Linked DNA regions of Homo sapiens. The protein of the gene in region 1 interacts with the protein of each later gene in a pairwise test. Each region holds a gene or a part of one and is shown in the gene's direction. Other genes may lie near its edges.

What was found.
Region 2: the proteins of STAT5A (region 1) and GLUD1 interact in a two-hybrid assay, tested with the Homo sapiens proteins (one large-scale study listed by BioGRID and IntAct).
Region 3: the proteins of STAT5A (region 1) and ZNF596 interact in a two-hybrid assay, tested with the Homo sapiens proteins (one large-scale study listed by BioGRID and IntAct).
Region 4: the proteins of STAT5A (region 1) and UGT2B4 interact in a two-hybrid assay, tested with the Homo sapiens proteins (one large-scale study listed by BioGRID and IntAct).
Region 5: the proteins of STAT5A (region 1) and PRTFDC1 interact in a two-hybrid assay, tested with the Homo sapiens proteins (one large-scale study listed by BioGRID and IntAct).

Annotation. Positions count from the first base shown.
Region 1 is NC_000017.11:42,291,479-42,294,997, forward strand, and holds part of STAT5A (signal transducer and activator of transcription 5A), read left to right. Parts: intron 1-493; coding exon 494-583; intron 584-3,519. UniProt on the Homo sapiens protein: Carries out a dual function: signal transduction and activation of transcription. Mediates cellular responses to the cytokine KITLG/SCF and other growth factors. Mediates cellular responses to ERBB4.
Region 2 is NC_000010.11:87,056,843-87,060,361, reverse strand, and holds part of GLUD1 (glutamate dehydrogenase 1, mitochondrial isoform a precursor), read left to right. Parts: intron 1-120; coding exon 121-201; intron 202-1,088; coding exon 1,089-1,212; intron 1,213-2,579; coding exon 2,580-2,671; intron 2,672-3,519. UniProt on the Homo sapiens protein: Mitochondrial glutamate dehydrogenase that catalyzes the conversion of L-glutamate into alpha-ketoglutarate. Plays a key role in glutamine anaplerosis by producing alpha-ketoglutarate, an important intermediate in the tricarboxylic acid cycle.
Region 3 is NC_000008.11:231,263-235,268, forward strand, and holds the start of ZNF596 (zinc finger protein 596), read left to right. Parts: upstream 1-1,193; 5' UTR 1,194-1,432; exon of another isoform or gene 1,433-4,006. UniProt on the Homo sapiens protein: May be involved in transcriptional regulation.
Region 4 is NC_000004.12:69,489,399-69,492,917, reverse strand, and holds part of UGT2B4 (UDP-glucuronosyltransferase 2B4 isoform 1 precursor), read left to right. Parts: intron 1-3,347; coding exon 3,348-3,479; intron 3,480-3,519.
Region 5 is NC_000010.11:24,939,096-24,942,614, reverse strand, and holds part of PRTFDC1 (phosphoribosyltransferase domain-containing protein 1), read left to right. Parts: intron 1-178; coding exon 179-285; intron 286-3,519. UniProt on the Homo sapiens protein: Has low, barely detectable phosphoribosyltransferase activity (in vitro). Binds GMP, IMP and alpha-D-5-phosphoribosyl 1-pyrophosphate (PRPP). Is not expected to contribute to purine metabolism or GMP salvage.

The DNA of each region.
Region 1 (3,519 bases):
GGCCGAGGCGGGTGGATCACCTGAGGTCGGGAGTTCGAGACCAGCCTGACCAACGTGGAGAAACCCCGCCTCTACTAAAAATACAAAATTAGCCGAGCGTGATGGCACATGCCTGTAATCCCAACTACTCAGGAGGCTGAGGAAGGAGAATCGCTTGAACCCGGGAGGTGGAGGTTGCAGTGAGCTGAGATCACACCATTGCACCTTTAGCCTAGGCAACAAGAGCAAAACTCCATCTCAAAAAGAAAAAAAAAAAAAAGAGAAAGTGCCTCATAAACTGTGGGTTTTTAATTCGCTCCAAACCAGATATGAAGATCTTGGAGGGGAAGATGAGGATGAGGAACAGAGATATAGAGGTGTCTGGGGATAGTTCCTGAGGCTCCCTGGGAAAAGCTGAGGCAGAGGCTGAAGGAGAGGAAGGGCTGGGCATAGCATGGGGCTGGCATGGCTGGAGCAGAGGATGGCGCTGGAGGCTACTGTTGGATTCTTTCAGAAAACATATGACCGCTGCCCCCTGGAGCTGGTCCGCTGCATCCGGCACATTCTGTACAATGAACAGAGGCTGGTCCGAGAAGCCAACAATGTGAGTGTCCCTTGGGGATGGGGAGGAGTGTTGAGAAGTCCCTCCATATGCCTTTCTCTCCAGAAACAACTGTGTTTATATAAAACAGCAGCACGAGGAGAGCACCAAGAAGATGAGGGACGTGGGCAAGTGTAAGAGGTGGCAGCATTGCACGCCGGGGTGGAGTGACCCCCTGGATCCAGTCCCTGGCTCTACCACTTACTAGCTGTGTGACTTGAGCAAGTTGCTTAATCTCTCTGAGCCTCTGTTCCTGTTTTTTTTTCTTTTTTCTTTTTTCTTTTTTTTGAGACGGATTCTTGCTCTGTCACCCAGGCTGCAGTGCAGTGGCGTGATCTCGGCTCACTGCAAGCTCTGCCTTCCAGGTTCACACCATTCTCCTGCCTCAGCCTCCCGAGTAGCTGGGGCTACAGGCGCCCACCACCATGCCCGGTTAATTTTTTGTATTTTTAGCAGAGATGGGGTTTCACTGTGTTAGCCAGGATGGTCTCAACCTGACCTCGTGATCCGCCCACCTCGGCCTCCCAAAGTACTGGGGTTACAGGCGTGAGCCACCACGCTTGGCGCCTACTGTTTTTTCCCCCCCGAGATGCAGTCTTGCTCTGTTGCCCAGGCTGGAGTGCAGTGATGTGATCTCTGCTCACTGCAACCTCTGCCTCCCAGGTTCAAGCAATTCTCTTGCCTCAGCCTCCCGAGTAGCTGGGATTACAGGTGCCCACCACCATGCCCGGCTAATTTTTTTTGTATTTTTAGTAGAGACGTGGTTTCACTATGTTGGCCAGGCTGGTCTTGAACTCCTGACCTCATGATCCACCCGCCTCGGCCTCCCAAAGTGTTGGGATTACAGGCGTGAGCCACCGTGCCCGGCCTGTTCCTACTCTTGTAAAATGGAGATAGCAATCATACCTATCTGTGTCAGAAGAACTAACACAGGCAGGCTCAGAGAAGTGAGGCCCAGGGAGGGGTAACAGGGACACATCTCCCCAGTTCTGAAATAATAAAGGCACTGGGCATCTACATGGACAATGGCACAGTGCTGTACTATCTGCAATAGAGCAAAATGAATTTCACAACATGACGTGACAGAAATCTTAGAACAGTGACCGGAGCACAGGTCATATTTATTATTTCTTTCTTTATTTGTTTGTTTGTTTATTTATTTTTGAGACTGAGTCTCACTCTATCATCTAGGCTGGAGTGCAGTGGCGTGATCTCGGCTCACTGCAACCTCCACCCCTTGGGTTCAAGAGATTCTCATGCCTCAGCCTCCCAAGTAGCTAGGATTACAGGGGCCCACCACCATGCCCGGCTAATTTTTGTATTTTTAGTAGAGACAGGGTTTCACCCTGTTGGCCAGGCTGGTCTCGAATTCCTGACTTCAAGTGATCCACCTGCCTCGGCCTCCCGAAGTGCTGGGATTACAGGCATGAGCCACCACGCCCGGCCTATTACGTATTTATTGTTGTGGACATGGATTTCAGGATTTACTCAGTAGACATTTATTGAGGTCTTACTGTGTGTCCGATGCTGGGCTATCATCAGAGAAACACATAAAGGCCTGGTTCTTGCCTGGAAGGAATTCTGGCAGTGATGGATTCTCTAGAGATGAGCTGAGTGCTAAGGGGGCCTAGGTGGAAAAAGCACCCAACTCAGATTGGGGCAGGCTGGCAGGGGAGCGTCCTGTGGACAGGCATGTCTGAGCTACAGTGGAGAAAGGCAGGAGAGGAGGGATGAATTTTCTAATGAAAAGACAGCAGCTGCGAGAGCAGGAGGGCATGAATCTTCTTATCACATTGGAAGACTTGTAAGTGGTCAGTGTAACTGGGGAGAAGGAACCAAGTGGGGAGTTGCCATGGATAAAAATAGATAGAGAGGGCCAGGCGTGGTGGCTCACATCTGTAATCCCAGCACTTTGGGAGGCCAAGGTGGGCGGATCACCTGACGTCAGAAGTTCGAGACCAGCCTGGCCAACATGGTGAAACCCAGTCTCTACTAAAAAATACAAAAATTAGCTAGGCGTGGTGGCGGGCGCCTGTAATCCTAGCTACTCGGGCGGCTGAGGCAGGAGAATTGCTTGAACCCAGGAGGGGGATGTTGCAGTGAGCTGAGATTGCACCACTTCACTCCAGCCTGGGCAACAGAGCGAGACTCTGTATAAAAAAAAAAAAAATAGGGGTTAGAAACCAGGTCACAAAGGGTCTTCCAGCACAGCCCCTGTGTCCCTGACTTGTTGCCATCACAGAGCTATCTGCAAACCTAAAAATGACTTCAGCCTCATTGACAAATCCATGTCCATGGTGCTGGTGCTGTCATGGTCTGGGAGCTCATTCCTTCCTCCAACCATACAACTGTTCCTGAACACCCCTGGCATTCTAGGGCTTGGGGATTCTGTAGTTCACAGGAAAGGCAAGGTCCTAGCCCTTGGGAACCTCACATCCTTGTGCAGGGAGACAGACAGAAACATGTAAGCAAATACAAGAACAACACACTTTTAGATAGGACTACTGTGAATTGGCTCGTCAGAGATGACCCCTCTGCAATGGTACCAGTTAAAGTGCTTTGCCTCAGGAGGATCTGATGCCAGAATGTTCCAGACTGTTGGAACAATAAGTGCAAGGGCCCCAGGGCAGGAACATGCCTGTGTGTTCAAGGAACAGAAACAGAAAGCACACATTCCCAGCGAGCTGGGGTTGGAGGTAGGCAGGGCTATGGCCAGCAGACACCATGGGAAGGGGTTTGGATTTTATTCTGAGAACAGTTCATTGGAAAGCCTCTGAGGACTTGTTCCTCTTCATCCATGTGCTCCCTCCCTTTGTGACCTGGTTTCTACCCCTCTCTCTCTATTTTTTTTTTTTTTGAAACGGAGTCTCGCTGTGTTGCCAAGGCTAGAGTGCAGTGGCGCAATCTCGGCTCACTGCAACATCCCCCTCCTGGGTTCA
Region 2 (3,519 bases), on another chromosome or scaffold:
TTTAACTGAAACTGTGCTTCTCCCCACAGCCCCTTGTTCATATATGCACATCTCTTGCCCTCAGTGGAGGGGATTTGACGGTGGTGTTCGCATTTCTCTATGTTCCTGACTCTCTTGCAGATCATTGCTGAAGGTGCCAATGGGCCAACAACTCCAGAAGCTGACAAGATCTTCCTGGAGAGAAACATTATGGTTATTCCAGTAAGTCATCTATATTTATTAGGCTTTATATGTACTTAGAATCATAATAGTCTTTTGCAAGGAATTTGGAGGAAGAGAGGAATTATTAGTCTCCAAGCTCTAGTGAATTCATCTTTTTCACTTTTGAGAAAATATAGTAGAAGCATGGTTAATTCTAAGCCTGTTAATTTTCACTTTGATCGAAACATTTATTCCAATTTCAGGCTCTTTACTGAATGTCTTTAGCCTTCTAAGAGTCTGGTTATATAAATGTGTACTGTGTTAGAAACACTATTCTAACTAAAGCTCTTAAGATTTTCTATATGATTCCTAACCTTATGCATTTCAAGTGCCCTTTCCAGCTTTACTCAGAAAACTAATATGAGGAACACGTGCTCAGGTTTTTTAGCAAGTAAAAATGAGTCTACACCAAAAAGTTACTAGAAATTAATGTGGGCTTGGAATATATTTTAAAGAACCCCCTTTGCTGAAAGCACTTAAGACATTTAATGTAACTGAAATGGGCTACCCTTAGGTAATAGGAGAAAGAATCCTGTCTTCTGAGAGGCCCTGTGGACAGTCCAGTCCAACTGGTTGGTGGGCAAGCCATTTAGTCTGAGAACTAACTTCTGGTAGAGAAGAGGCTCCAACCAAAGATTATTAACTTTCCTTGATTAATAAGCCAAAAAATGATTTTTTTTTTTTCCTAAATAGAAAAAGCCTTAGATGGAATTGGGTGGGATGGGAAGGAGTGTTAATTAAGTGTGAAATTCCTGATACTGGCTAAAATATATTTGCGATATTTAAAGTCCAGTCTACCTTGGTATTGAAATTAAGGTCTTAGGTTCATTTTCAGCTTTTACGAAAACCATCATCTTCTAATTTCTTTGTCTTATTTTTGTGCATAGGATCTCTACTTGAATGCTGGAGGAGTGACAGTATCTTACTTTGAGTGGCTGAAGAATCTAAATCATGTCAGCTATGGCCGTTTGACCTTCAAATATGAAAGGGATTCTAACTACCACTTGCTCAGTGAGTATCGATAATCTTGTTCGCCAAAACTCATCTTTTGAGCCAGCTGAAAGGCTGTAAAAAGGTCCACTTAAGAGAACTGATCCCTTTGGGAAAGAATTGAGTCTCAGAAAAGAAAATAATATTTTGTCTCATGAAACTTAGACCAAAAATGCACAATGTCTTTCTGGATATTAACTCTCCCATATATTATATCCAGAGTTTTATTCTGTGATGTAATATTCACAGAATATAATCTACATTTTTTTTTTCTTTTTTTGAGAGGGAGTCTCGCTCCGTCGCCGAGGCTGGAGTGCAGTGGCACGAACTCGGCTTACTGTAGCCTCCGCCTCCCAGGTTCAAGCAATTCTCCTGCCTCACCCTCCCAAGTAGCTGGGGCTACAGGCACTCACCGCCACGCCCGGCTAATTTTTGTATTTTTAATAGAGACGGGGTTTCACCATGTTGGCCAGGATAGCCTTGATCTCCTGACCTCATGATCCGCCTGCCTCAGCCTCCCAAAGTGCTGGGATTACAGGCGTGAGCCACTGTGCCCAGCCAATAATATTTTTTTAAGTGTGATTTTAAAACTCCACTGTCGATACTAATTTCTGTCTCTGGTTGCTCTTAGTAAAGGCCTATCTAGTGTCAAGAATTGTTTTTGAGACTCCTGATGAGAATACTTGTTTTTCTTTGACTAGAGTAAGCTCCACAGTTAAGAGTAGAATTTCTCATCTAGTTGAAATAAGACCAAGACCTCCTACTGAGCTTCTGTACTCAGCCCACTGTGAGAATCTGGGTGAAGTGTTCCATCTATTTCCTTTTCTTTTTCCCCCAGCGTTTTCTTTTTAATAGAGCCAAGGAAAAACCCTGGTAATGGGTGTTATGGAAACAGAGCAGTGACCTAAATTCACATTTATATAGGAAATTGGCAATGTGTTTTATTCCTTCCTGACTGAGTTTTAAATGATTAACCCTTTTATGTCATTAAAACTCTGTATAAGGCCAGGCGCAGTGGCTCACGCCTGTAATCCCAGCACTTTGGGAGGCCAAGGCAGATGAATCACGAGGTCAGGAGGTCGAGACCATCCTGGCTAACACGGTGAAACCCCGTCTCTACTAAAAATACAAAAAATTAGCTGGGCGTGGTGGCGCGCACCTGTAGTCCCAGCTACTCGCAAGGCTGAGGCAGGAGAATGGCGTGAACCCGGGAGGCAGAGTTTGCAGTGAGCTGAGATCACGCCTCTACACTCCAGCCTGGGTGACAGACCACGACTCTGTCTGTATAAGTTTTTGGGTTACAGTTATAGTTTGGGACTACTTTTGATTCTACTTTTTTTTTTTTTTTTCTGTTAGCAATATCTTGATCTCTTGTTATTTTTTTGTAGTGTCTGTTCAAGAGAGTTTAGAAAGAAAATTTGGAAAGCATGGTGGAACTATTCCCATTGTACCCACGGCAGAGTTCCAAGACAGGATATCGGTGAGTGTGGTGACCCCACAGTTGTACTTCACACATGCTCCCTGCTCTTTCCTTCAGACAGAGCTGGTTAGATGGATTTCATCTGCGGCATAGTCTTTGTAATTAGCTTGACAGTAAGTGCGTGACATGTGTGTTTTGTACCTTTCCTTTTCATTACATTCTAAAACTGGAGTAAGAATCCTACTGACTACTAACAAATATAAAATAAATAAATTTGGTATTTTTCACGCACGTGTTTTAACAGTGAAGGATTATTATGTATTTTAATTATTTTAAGCTTCAGAGAAATAGGAAGAATTGAAAAGCAAGCATTAGATTGAACTATATGGGAGTCCAAGAGTTTGAGACCAACCTGGGGAACATAGTGAGTCCCCATCTCTACAAAAATAAAGAAAGAAACAAGAGGCCAGGCATGGTGGCACACGCCTGTAATCCCAGCACTTTGGGAGGTCAAGGCGGGTGGATCACGAAGTCAAGTCATCGACACCATCCTGGCCAACATGGTGACCCCGTCTCTACTAAAAATACAAAAATTAGCCAGGCGTGGTGCTACACGCCTATAGTCCCAGCTACTTGGGAGGCTAAGGCAGGAGAATCACTTGAACCCGGGAGGTGGAGGTTGCAGTTAGCCGAGATTGCACCACTGCACTCTAGCCTGAGCAACAGAGAGATACTCCGTTCCCGCCGCCGCCACCCCCCTCCCCCCGCCAAAAAAAAGAAAGGAGGGATGGAGGGAGGGAAACTTCTTTACCAGTAAATGATGGAAGACAGGAAAAACAAAAGTCCATAACACATAAGCCTGGGGGAAAAATTTAACCTCATTGTTAAAGAAATACAAATTGAAAAAG
Region 3 (4,006 bases), on another chromosome or scaffold:
TTCAAAAATGTGACATGATTTGAGGTCAAACATTAATATCAAGTAAACTCAAAAGATTGAGAAGCTAGCATTAGTTCTGGGAAAACCAGAAGTGTGCCTTTTTTGGAAATAATCATTGGTAGCACAAACTTAAGAATCTCCAAAGGAAATAAAAATGAGTTATTAACTTACAGTTTTCACCAATTAAGATATAAATGAAGCTAACGAAATCCGGAAATACAATTTCACTGTTTTTAATGTTCATTAAAAAAAAATCCTTATCAAATAGCCCCAGTAAGTCACCAATTAAGTCTTTACTACTTAAAAGCAAAATCCACCTATGTCCTGAACAGTATCCACTTTACGAGCCTCATTATATGTACGAGATAAAATTCAGAAATAAATAAATATACATGTATACGTATACAAATATATTTCAAATTAAAAAATACTTTTAGATAGTGGTATGTATTACATTTAGAAATTAATAACGAAGTAAATTATGGGATGTCATCCACGCCTGTCCCAAAGGTACCGAATTTATAAATCATCTCAGGTGCGGAGCAGGACAGGTTGAAAATAGGAATGACATGAACCCGCGCGGAACAGCTGCCGGCGCGGTGTCCAGGGCGGCACCCCGCCCGGTCCCGGCCCCTCCAGCCCTGGGCCCGACCCCTACTACGCCTCTGCCTCGACGCGAACGCGGAGCCCGAGCGCGCGTCACGCCGTGTGGGGCCGAAGAGGCTGCTACCCAGAGGCGGAGTGCGGGCTCGCGAGGGTCCCCACCCGACTCTCGCTCCCGCCAGCACCTACGGACTCGCGTCCCCGCCGCGCGCCGACTCGGGAGCAGCACCGCCCCCGGCACAGGAGCCTCACGCGCCTCTTACCTAACAGGAAGTTGGGTGGAAGCAGCGCGGACCCACGGCACACCGAACGCACTCCAACAGAACCCGACGCAGACACGCGCTTTCAACCGGCGGAGACACTGGCAGGGCCAGAAACGCGCGCAGCGGGGGCGGGAGGTCGGTAAGCTCCCCGCCCCTGCCCGAGACCCCGCCCCGGCCCGGCCCCGCCTTTTTCTCTGCCTCCCCTCCCTGCACGTACGGGCCCCGCCCCTCGCGCGACGTTTTTTGTTGACCCGGAAACGGATTCTCCGGAGCCGAGGTCCGCTCGGGTGAGTGCCCTCCGCTTTTTGTGGCCAAACCCAGCCACGCAGTTCCCTTCCTGCGGCGTCCTCCACACCCGGGGTCTGCTGGTCTCCGCGGATGTCACAGGCTCGGCAACCGCCCTCCTGTCGGCGGGGAGTCCCGCGACGCCCGGAAATGCTCCGAAGCCTGTCGCCCAGCTGCCAGATCTGCGTCTGTGTCCGGTTCCGTCACTGAGGTCGCCCCTGTCCGGCCCTTCCACCCTAGTTCTCTTCACCGTCCGCCCATCCTATCGCGCGCGGCCTCAGGTCCCGATTCGGCATGTGGCTTGTCTTCCATCGTCCCCACCCTCGCCCCTCTTGGCCCCTCAGGGCAGCCCTGGGATTCGGCAGACGCCAGTCCTCCCTGAGATGCTTCCCCATCCTTCCCTCCGCCAGGCCCTACGTCTCCGCAAACCCCACGCTTCGGGGTGGCCGCCTCAGACAGGACCCTGAGTCCGAGACTGGGGTAGGGGACCTGCCCGATCCTGTAACAACCCTCGTGCTTCTGCACAATCGCCTCCCACTAGCGGTGACTGTTGGGTGTTTACCTTCCCGGTGTCCCACTGAGAAGCGGGCTCTTCCTTGGCAGGGGCTTCTTCATTGCCTCGCTGTGGATGTCGAGGTGGGGCAGGAGAGTGAGGAGAAAACAGAGGAGGGAGGTAGAGCCAACGAGCGAGAAAAGGGGAGGGAAGTTTAGATGGGAAGTGGATGGGTCTGAGGAATTTGAACAAACACCGACAATGAAGGAGAGTGACCTGAGCAAGTAGTAGTGGGGTAAATGGAAATAGACAAAATGGGAATCAGCAGAGATATGGAGGACAGAATACAATGAGGAGGCCTTGACCGTCAGTAGCAGAGAGGGCAGCAGAAGCCTAATTCCCAAATTCTTTAGATGGTTTTCTGATTTCCAAATTAGTTTCCCTTTTAAATTTATTGTGTCAGGTTCAGCTTATGAGGCCTCAATACTTTTCAGTCTTAATTGTATATTGAAAATACTTTTTGTTTACTAAATGCTTTTTACATTAATTCAGTGTGCACTTCGTAAGGATAATGATGATTTGAGTTAGTTTAGTATTCAACAGCTTCCTCTATTCCTTTATATGATCTCTGTATTTAATGGCTGTGGCATAAAGTTTCCAACTAAGTTTAAGTATCAAGTTTTCTTTGTGCTGTTTTCTGCAAATATTGAAGGATGACCTGGATTGTCCTAGAACTTTGTTCCAACAGATTACATGTGTTCATAATGAATAGACTGCTCAAAGATATTTCCAAAGCTCACCTTTTATGTTTTTCAGTTCCAATAATTACATCTTTTTAAGGTTTATATTTTTTGATGACTTAATGTGATGTTCTGGAGAAGACAAATGCTTTTAATCAATATGATTAAAACCGTGAAAGACAAATCGCTGTTACTTAAGAGTGTGACATATGATCTGAAATCTTTAGGGGGCAGGGATGTTAAGGGAAAACTGCCACTATCGTATTAAGGTCATGCCATTCCTGTGAAGCTGGTGCTTGTTACTCTCTACTGGCTTCTGTTCACCTTTCCACCGGCCCCAAGACACACACATAGTGACACAAGGCAGTGGACAGGGAAAGAGCAAGACTTTATAAAGTAAGCACACAACAAAGGTATCTTTCTAATGAGGAGGAGGTGTTGGTTCTGGGAAGGAAGCTTGGGATTTGGGTATTCAGGATCCAGAAGTGAGAGAGCCTGGGAAGTTCAGGAACCAGAGAAAGAAAAAGCCTTGCCCATTCTCACCCATGACACTGTGCTCAGCAGGTACTAGCAGACTTCAGGCTCTGTGACTAAAAGGGGTCAGACCAGTTGATATACCCACAGCTGCCATGTAAGGATGTGTGTGGACTTCACTAGGGAAGAACGGTGTTATGAAAGAAGGGGCAGAAAAACTCACCTGTTGGTCTGCATGTAGAGGTTTATTGTCCTGAATTCCTGGAGGTTCAGTGAAAAGCAGAAGATTGTCTTTTACACATGTTGAGTTATGCCCCCATATATGTGGTTGTGGTAAAGAAAGAGGGTGTGTTGATGAGAGGTCCTGAAATGCATTTTCCTAATACTCAGCAGGGGCTTCTCAAGAAGGATCTTCCCTAAGAAAGAAGCTCAGAGAACAAAAATGGAAAAGGATTAGATATGGCACTTTCACTGGAAAAAGTCATGTTATTCATTGATTGTTTTGTCATCTCCCGCCTTAAGTGTTGTTTTTAGGATGTGGTAATCTCTGACCCTGCCTAACACATTTCCCAACTCACCCATAGCCTTCCCTTAACGTCCTCCCATCTTCACGCTATCACACTGTGACCCAGTGAATTCGAACTTGTGAAGTTCCATTCGGGGGATCATATGGGAAGGGCTTCACACCCAGACATAGATTATAGATGGGAAGTGGGCCACATGGTGTCAGTGAGGCAAGTATGGGTCGTTTAGGGACAATGCACTGTCAGATCTTTGTTGACCATGATTAGAGAAACTGTGCATATTAGTAGTGAATTAATGTCAGGAATATCTGACAAATCCTGGAAAAGAAGATTGATGAGAGGAAATGTGTTCTGCCCAACTGTATAATGCATTTGAAGCTTAAAACAATGAATCAGTATTGATCTGGCCACAAAATATTAATGATTTGAATTAAAAAGAAAAGTTTAGAAAATGATAGCTTTGACAAATTAAGGTAGCATTTCATCCACACGATGGAGTGTGTTTTATTCAGTAATTGATTTAAAAATGGAATCAACCTAAGTGTCTAACAGGAGGGAGTTTTATAAATTGTTCACAGAACATCTGTTCCAAGGAGACCTTGATGTTCATAGATTTGTAAAGAA
Region 4 (3,519 bases), on another chromosome or scaffold:
CGATGGATTAAATTGTGGAAGGGCCAAACTAGAAAGAGCTGACCATTGAGGAAATTTTGTATGAATTCAGGTAGCAGATGATGGAAAAATGGACTAGAAAGTGGATAGAATTACCTATGCCTACTTTTACAGTAATATGACTAACTTCATATTGTGTTGTGTGGAAAAAAGTTAATACAAATAAACCACTTAAAATGTCTCTGGCATATAGTTAGTGATTCAGAAATATTATTTTGCAATTATGGTTATTTTTGTTATTACTAATACTATGAATTACTTAACATGTGTAAGTCACTTGAGATATTATTCCTCATTTAATAGAAACTAATTATTCAGCATTTCAAGATTATATTCTCTAACAAAGTCCTATGGTCTTCTATATGACAGATACCCTGTAGACTTGTTTAAAATAAGACATATCAGTTTTGACAGTAAGATGAGCAAAATGAAATTGTAAAATTCTACCACAAGTGACAAGGATCTTCATCAGTATTCTAACTTATAAGAAAATAATCCCTTACCGATATAAATGTGTGATTCTATTAGTATTTGCAGCCAGACCCAGTGTTCACTTGATTTTACTAAAGCATTTAAATCATTCTGCGTTGAGATCCCAGAGGTTTACATCTTAGCATAAACATACCCTATTAGAGCAGGTGTTTTCTGCCTTAAGACAAGCAACCCAGTAAAGCTTCCTGGGATAGCTTGTGTCTCAACATCATAAGTGCCTGAGAGAGAAGCACAGAAAAAATGAACAACGCATGTATAATAAAGACCAAATAATTTCTACCACTCGTATCTGAATCGTGCCCTCAGTTTACAATAATAAAAGAATTCTGTCATCATATAACATTATATTCTTTATGGAGGAATATAAGAATGTAATATATTTTAAATTGATATCACCCTTCTAAGAAATAGGTAGAAAGTAAGCATTTTTATTACATTATGTAATCTCTTAAGAGATAATTTTTGCCTACCTCCTTATTAACAGCAACATGAAACTGATATTTTATTCCATGGTTAAAATCCAATATCTATGTTGAATGCAAATTGTATGGGCTTTATATGGTAACTTTCTAAAGAGACAAAAGCTGAGATAAGACTAATGAAAATTCTGTCCCACCCTATCCTACTCTTGAAAGATTTCCCCACTCACATTAAGGGAAACTGACAGTGCCAGTAAGAGGGAGAAGAGAGTACGAGGTGTGGAAGGATAAGAAAAAGATTGAGTCGTAGTACATGTGATAATTACTAATACTAGCTGTTGTTACTAACTTGTAGAAAGCTTTGAATGCAAGTCAATGGTTGTGAAAGCCATTCTCTAATTGTTTATCATGTAAAATAACTGCAAACCCAATTTGCTTTCTATTCAATTAAATATTAGATTCTCAGATAATTTATGCATACTTTAAGAGAAAAGGACACTTGGCAAATGTATTAAGTATTAAAAATGCATATAGCCATTGGTTTTATAATATATTCACATGAAATCATACAGAGAAAAAATAAATCAAGATGTACATATTTAATATTTATGGAAAATATTCATAAAATAAACATCAAAAGTAATCAAACATCTGAAATTAAGGAATAATTAAAAACATATACTAGATGCATACTATAGCATTACAATAATTTTATCAATAAAATATTCAGTTACAGTCAGCTATAATACAAGTAAAGTGAGGTAGAAAATTATAAATATTACAGGCTGACACGTTTTTTGTAGGAGGAAAAGGTATATACAATCAGAATAAAATTGTCTAAATAAACGTCACAAGTGTACATTGAACTATAAAGATAGAACAAAAGCCATGATGAAAACATATGTAGTTTACAAGGTGACATCTCTCGACAAAAATTTTAGAAAAAAAATTATTTTCTTTTTAGAACTTGCACTACTTCTATAAAATACCTTACATACATAGTGTATTATTATTTTAAAGTTGTCACAGAATGGGAAACAACCAGTCCACATCAATAATGAATCCCCTTTAGGGATTATATTACTTTAACACTGGGTGGATGAAGGCGGCTCTGGACATCAAGCCACTGAAACAAAACACTGAACGTAAGTTACATCAAATGTGGCTACAGGTAACTGCAATTACGCACAATACCTGGATATCCTATGTATTACCTTGAATAGCAGAACAATGACTCTAACATCATTAACACTGATGTCTTAAGATTAAAAATCATATTTTAAAAAATGCTTAGCCATATGTGGTCTGCAAATAAACATTTGGAATCTTTTTTCTTTGTTTTGTAGAGAACACTTAAGAAAAAGTTTTACCCCAATGATTAAATCTGAAAGTATTTAAATTTCAAAATTGGCGTACATTGGGGAACACAGGTCAGAATGATTCCCAGTAAATTCCAGCCAAGTACATCTTCACTAAGATTTTTATGTAGTGTGGGTGATCTACTCAAGAGGGTGACCAAATCTCTGCAGAAAGTTCTGGCAGTCTCTCGCATTCTGGTGCAAGTGCTGCTGCCTCTGAGACACAGCAAAATGATGATGAGAATTCCTCACATGCAGTTATAAATAGCACATCAATTTAACAGTGTGATTTCAGGGAAAAATTGTTCCACTTAAACAATCACCTGAAAAATATAATCATTCGACTATGTAACTACATACTGTACGATTCTGTATTACAAATGAGAATACAGAATTATTTATAGAAATTTATAGAAATTCCAAACCACAACAGCAGACTCCATAATGTCAGTGATTCTTAACCACCACCTTTTACAGCTACTTTTTTTTCTCTTTTGAAAAAAGACTGGAAAACTCTGACAAACTTTAAGTGAAGTGTAAAGGATTATAGAATAAGATAAATGTAGGTTTACGTAATCCCAGCTGTGAGTAACTTTTCCTCAGTGCTCAGAGTCAGGGAAGTCAACCACTAATGACTTCAAACTAAAATAATTCTGTAGAAAACCTGCCTAAAATAAGCATATGTGATTTAGCGAGCAACAATATAGCATTAAAGCCAACTGGTGCCACTTTAAAGAACCTATATTAGTACTTATAATATGATAAGTGAAGAGTTTGGGTATCTCCTCAAATACTGTGTAATAACTCTATTTCATTTCTCCCTTTCACAAACGCACACACATACACACACACATATTTACACAAAGACCCTTAACAGAGGCAACCTATCTCATATTATACATATTGCAAAAAAAACTGAGTAATTGAGTCAGTTAAAAAACATCCTTTACTCCAATAATTCCTGATAAAACTTGATTTTCTCTCTTTTTATAACAATTCTTTCACAGTGCTTGCTGTGCTGATAATCTATTATGATAGAACAAATTCTTTTTTTTCACAGGAAATGGAAGAGTTTGTCCAGAGCTCTGGAGAAAATGGTGTTGTGGTGTTTTCTCTGGGGTCGATGGTCAGTAACACGTCAGAAGAAAGGGCCAATGTAATTGCATCAGCCCTTGCCAAGATCCCACAAAAGGTAAGATAAAATGTTTTAATGGTGTAAAAAACTACTGAAA
Region 5 (3,519 bases), on another chromosome or scaffold:
TGGAGTGCTCTGTTCACTTTAGTACTGCGCCTTGTATCAGGTTGTGGAAACAAATAACCTTGTTCCACTAAACTTTTCATAAGTTGAGGGAATTCTCCTCTCAAGTGATACTCTTTTGTTATGTTTTAAACAAATTTCTGATGAAAAAATACCATAACCAAAATAATTTGATTTGCAGATTATGGATGATTGGCCAGGGTATGACTTGAATTTATTCACGTACCCACAGCACTATTATGGAGACTTGGAGTATGTCCTCATCCCTCATGGTATCATTGTGGACAGGTGAGTGTGATTTCCTGTGTCAATCTTGGTCCTGCACTGGGCCGGCCCACACTTGTGTGAATCCCACAATATACTTTAGGACCCTATTCCTGAGCTGCGTTTTATAGTGGTAGAGAGAACTTTTATATAGGGCAGTGAATTTGGAATAAAATGAATGTATGCTTAAATTGAATGGTTTACCTGGACATTTGTTCAGGCGGTATGGTAATATGGTAAGAAGGATATACATACATAAGCTATTATAAGTAACAGCCTCAAAATAACAATGTCCTAAGATGGCTTTTCCGTGGCAAAGAAGTCCCACCCTCACAGAGGGGGGACGTTCCGTGATCAAATAAACTTTGGAAATTTTGTGTCTTCCATATTTTTGTCTCTCAGTTGACAAATCAAAACAAACATTAGCATATTGAAAATATGGAAATTCCAGCCAAAAGAAAAGAAGAACACAGAAAAGAAACCTGCTTGACTTTAACAATTAAAGCAACCTTTTTTTGTGCAAAGGGAGACTTTGTACTCAGTTTACCTATTTACAACTCTCAGAAGAGATTTCCCTTAATACCAGTTTGGGAAGCTCCTAATTTAAACAAATTCTTGCATTTCTTACCTGAATTTTCTAATTTAAAATTAATTTAAAATCAGTCAGAACATGATTGACTCCTGGGTAGGGGGTAGGGTTACCCTAAGCCTTTTCTTTGTACAAGAGAATCATCCAGTAAACTTGTTAAAATGCATATTCTTAAGCTTTATGTCTAGAAATTTCAAATCGATATTCTAGGGTGGGGCCCAAGAATGTCCGTTTTCACCTTTGAAATAAATTTATAAGCCAGGGGCTATGGCATGCACCTGTAATCCAGGCTACTCCAGAGGCTGAAGTGTGGGGATCACTTGAACCCAAAAATTTGAGACTAACCTGGGCTAATCTCAAATACTGAGATCTTGTCTCAAAAAAAAAAAAAATTAAGATGTAATTTACAGGGCTGGGTACAGTGGCTCGTTCCTGTAATCCCAGCACTTTGGGAGGCTGAGGCAAGAGGACTGTTTGAGCCAGGAGTTTGAGACCAGCCTGGGCAATGTAGTGAGAACCCGTCTCTACAAAAAAATAAAAAACATTAGTCAGGCATAGTAGCACAGGCCTGTAGTCCCAGCTACTAGGGAGGCTAAGGCGAGAGGATCACTTGAGTCTGGGAGGTCAAGGCTGCAGTGAGCCATGATCACACCACTGCACTGTAGCCTGGGGAACAGAGCGAGACCTTGTCTCAAACACACAAACACACACACACACACACACACACAAGATTAATTTATATACTACTGCACAAAATTCACCCATTGCAGGTGAACAACTAAATGATTTTTAGTAAATTTTTATGGTCAGGCAACCATCAGCACCATCCAGTTTTACATTTCCATCATCCCCAAAAGTTTGTTTGCAGCCAATCCCTGCTCCCACTTCCAGCATCTTTTTCTATAAATTTGTCTTTTCTGGCCATTTTGCGTAAGAAAATCGTACAATAGCTAATTATTGATTGACCAGTTGATGTACATTTGGATGTCCCATTTTTGGCTATTGTGGAAATGCTTCTATAAACATTCACATATAAGTTTTGTGTGGACATATCTTTTCATTTCTCTTGGATGGATTTCTCATTGTGGAATTCTGGGTTTTCTGGTAAGTGTAAGAAACTGCCAATTATTTTCCAAAGTGGCTGCACCTTGTTACATTGCCACCAGCAGCATATGAAGGTTTCAGTTTTTCCACATACTTGCCAACATTGAATATTGTCTGTCCTTTTGATTATAGCCATTCTTGTGGCTGTCTAATGGTATCTCACCGTGGTTTTAATTTGTATTTTCCTAATCATTAGTATACTTGTTAGCTATTCATAAGCCTTCTTTGGAGAGAGGTCTTTTCAAGTCTTTTGCCAATTTTTAAATTCAATTGTTCATCTTCTTATTGAACTATAAGAGTTCTTTATATATTTTGGATAATAGTCCTTTATCAGATATATGATTTGCAAATATTTACTCCCAGCCTATGGTTTGTCTTACTATTTTCTTACTGGTATCTTTTAAGAAGAATGTGTATCCTGCTGTTGTGGGGTGAAGTATTGTATATGTGTTAATTAGATCCAGTCAGTTGATGGTGCTTCTCAGTTCAACTATATGCTTACTGATTCTCTGACTGTTGGACCTGTCAATTACTGATAGAGGGGATGTTAAAGTCTCCAAATAGTGCATTTGCCTGTTTCTCCTTGCAGTTCTATTAGGTTTTTGACACTTTGTTTTTAGGAGCATATATATTAGGAATTGTTATGTCTCTTTGGATAATCGACCTCCTTATTATTGTGTAATGATGCTCTTTATCCCTGCATATTCCTCACTCAGAAGTCTGCTCTGTCTGAAATTAAAATAGCTACTCCAACTTTCTTTTGATTAATGTTAGCATGGCATGTCTTACTCCATCCATTTAATCTATCTGTTTTTATATTTATATTTAAAGTGAGTTTCTTTTTCTTTTTTTTTTTTTTTTTTTTTTGAGATAGAGTCTCACTCTGTCACCCTGGCTGGAGTGCAGTGGCACAATCTCGGCTCACTGCAACCTCCAACTCCCGGGTTCAAGTGAACCTCCTGCCTCAGCCTCCCAAGTAGCTGGGATTATAAGCATGCACCACCACACCTGGCTAATTTTTTGTATTTTTAGTAGAGATGGGGTTTCACCATGTTGGCCAGGATGGTCTTGATCTCCTGACCTGAAGGGATCTGCCTGCCTTGGCCTCCCAAAGTGCTGGGATTATAGGTGTAAGCCATAAAGTGAGCTTCTTGTGGGCAATATACAGTTAGATCTTTTTTTAATCCACCCTGACAGTCTGTCTTTTAATTGCTATATTTAGACCATTCATATTTAAAATGAGTATTGATATAATGTTTAGTATCTATCGTATTTATAACTATTTTCTATTCATTGCTGTTGTTGTTTCCTTTTTTGTCTTCCACTCTGTGAAATTCTACTTTTTTTTTTTTTTTTTTTGAGTCAGAGTTTCACTCTTATCACCCAGACTGGAGTGCAATAGCACAGTCTGGGCTTACTGCAACCTCCGCCTCCTGGGTTCAAGTGATTCTCCTGCCTCAGCTTCCTGAGTAGCTGGGATTACAGGCGCAGACCACCAAGCCCGGCTAATTTTTGTATTTTTAGTAGAGATTGGGTTTCACCGTGTTGGCCAGGCTGATCTTGAA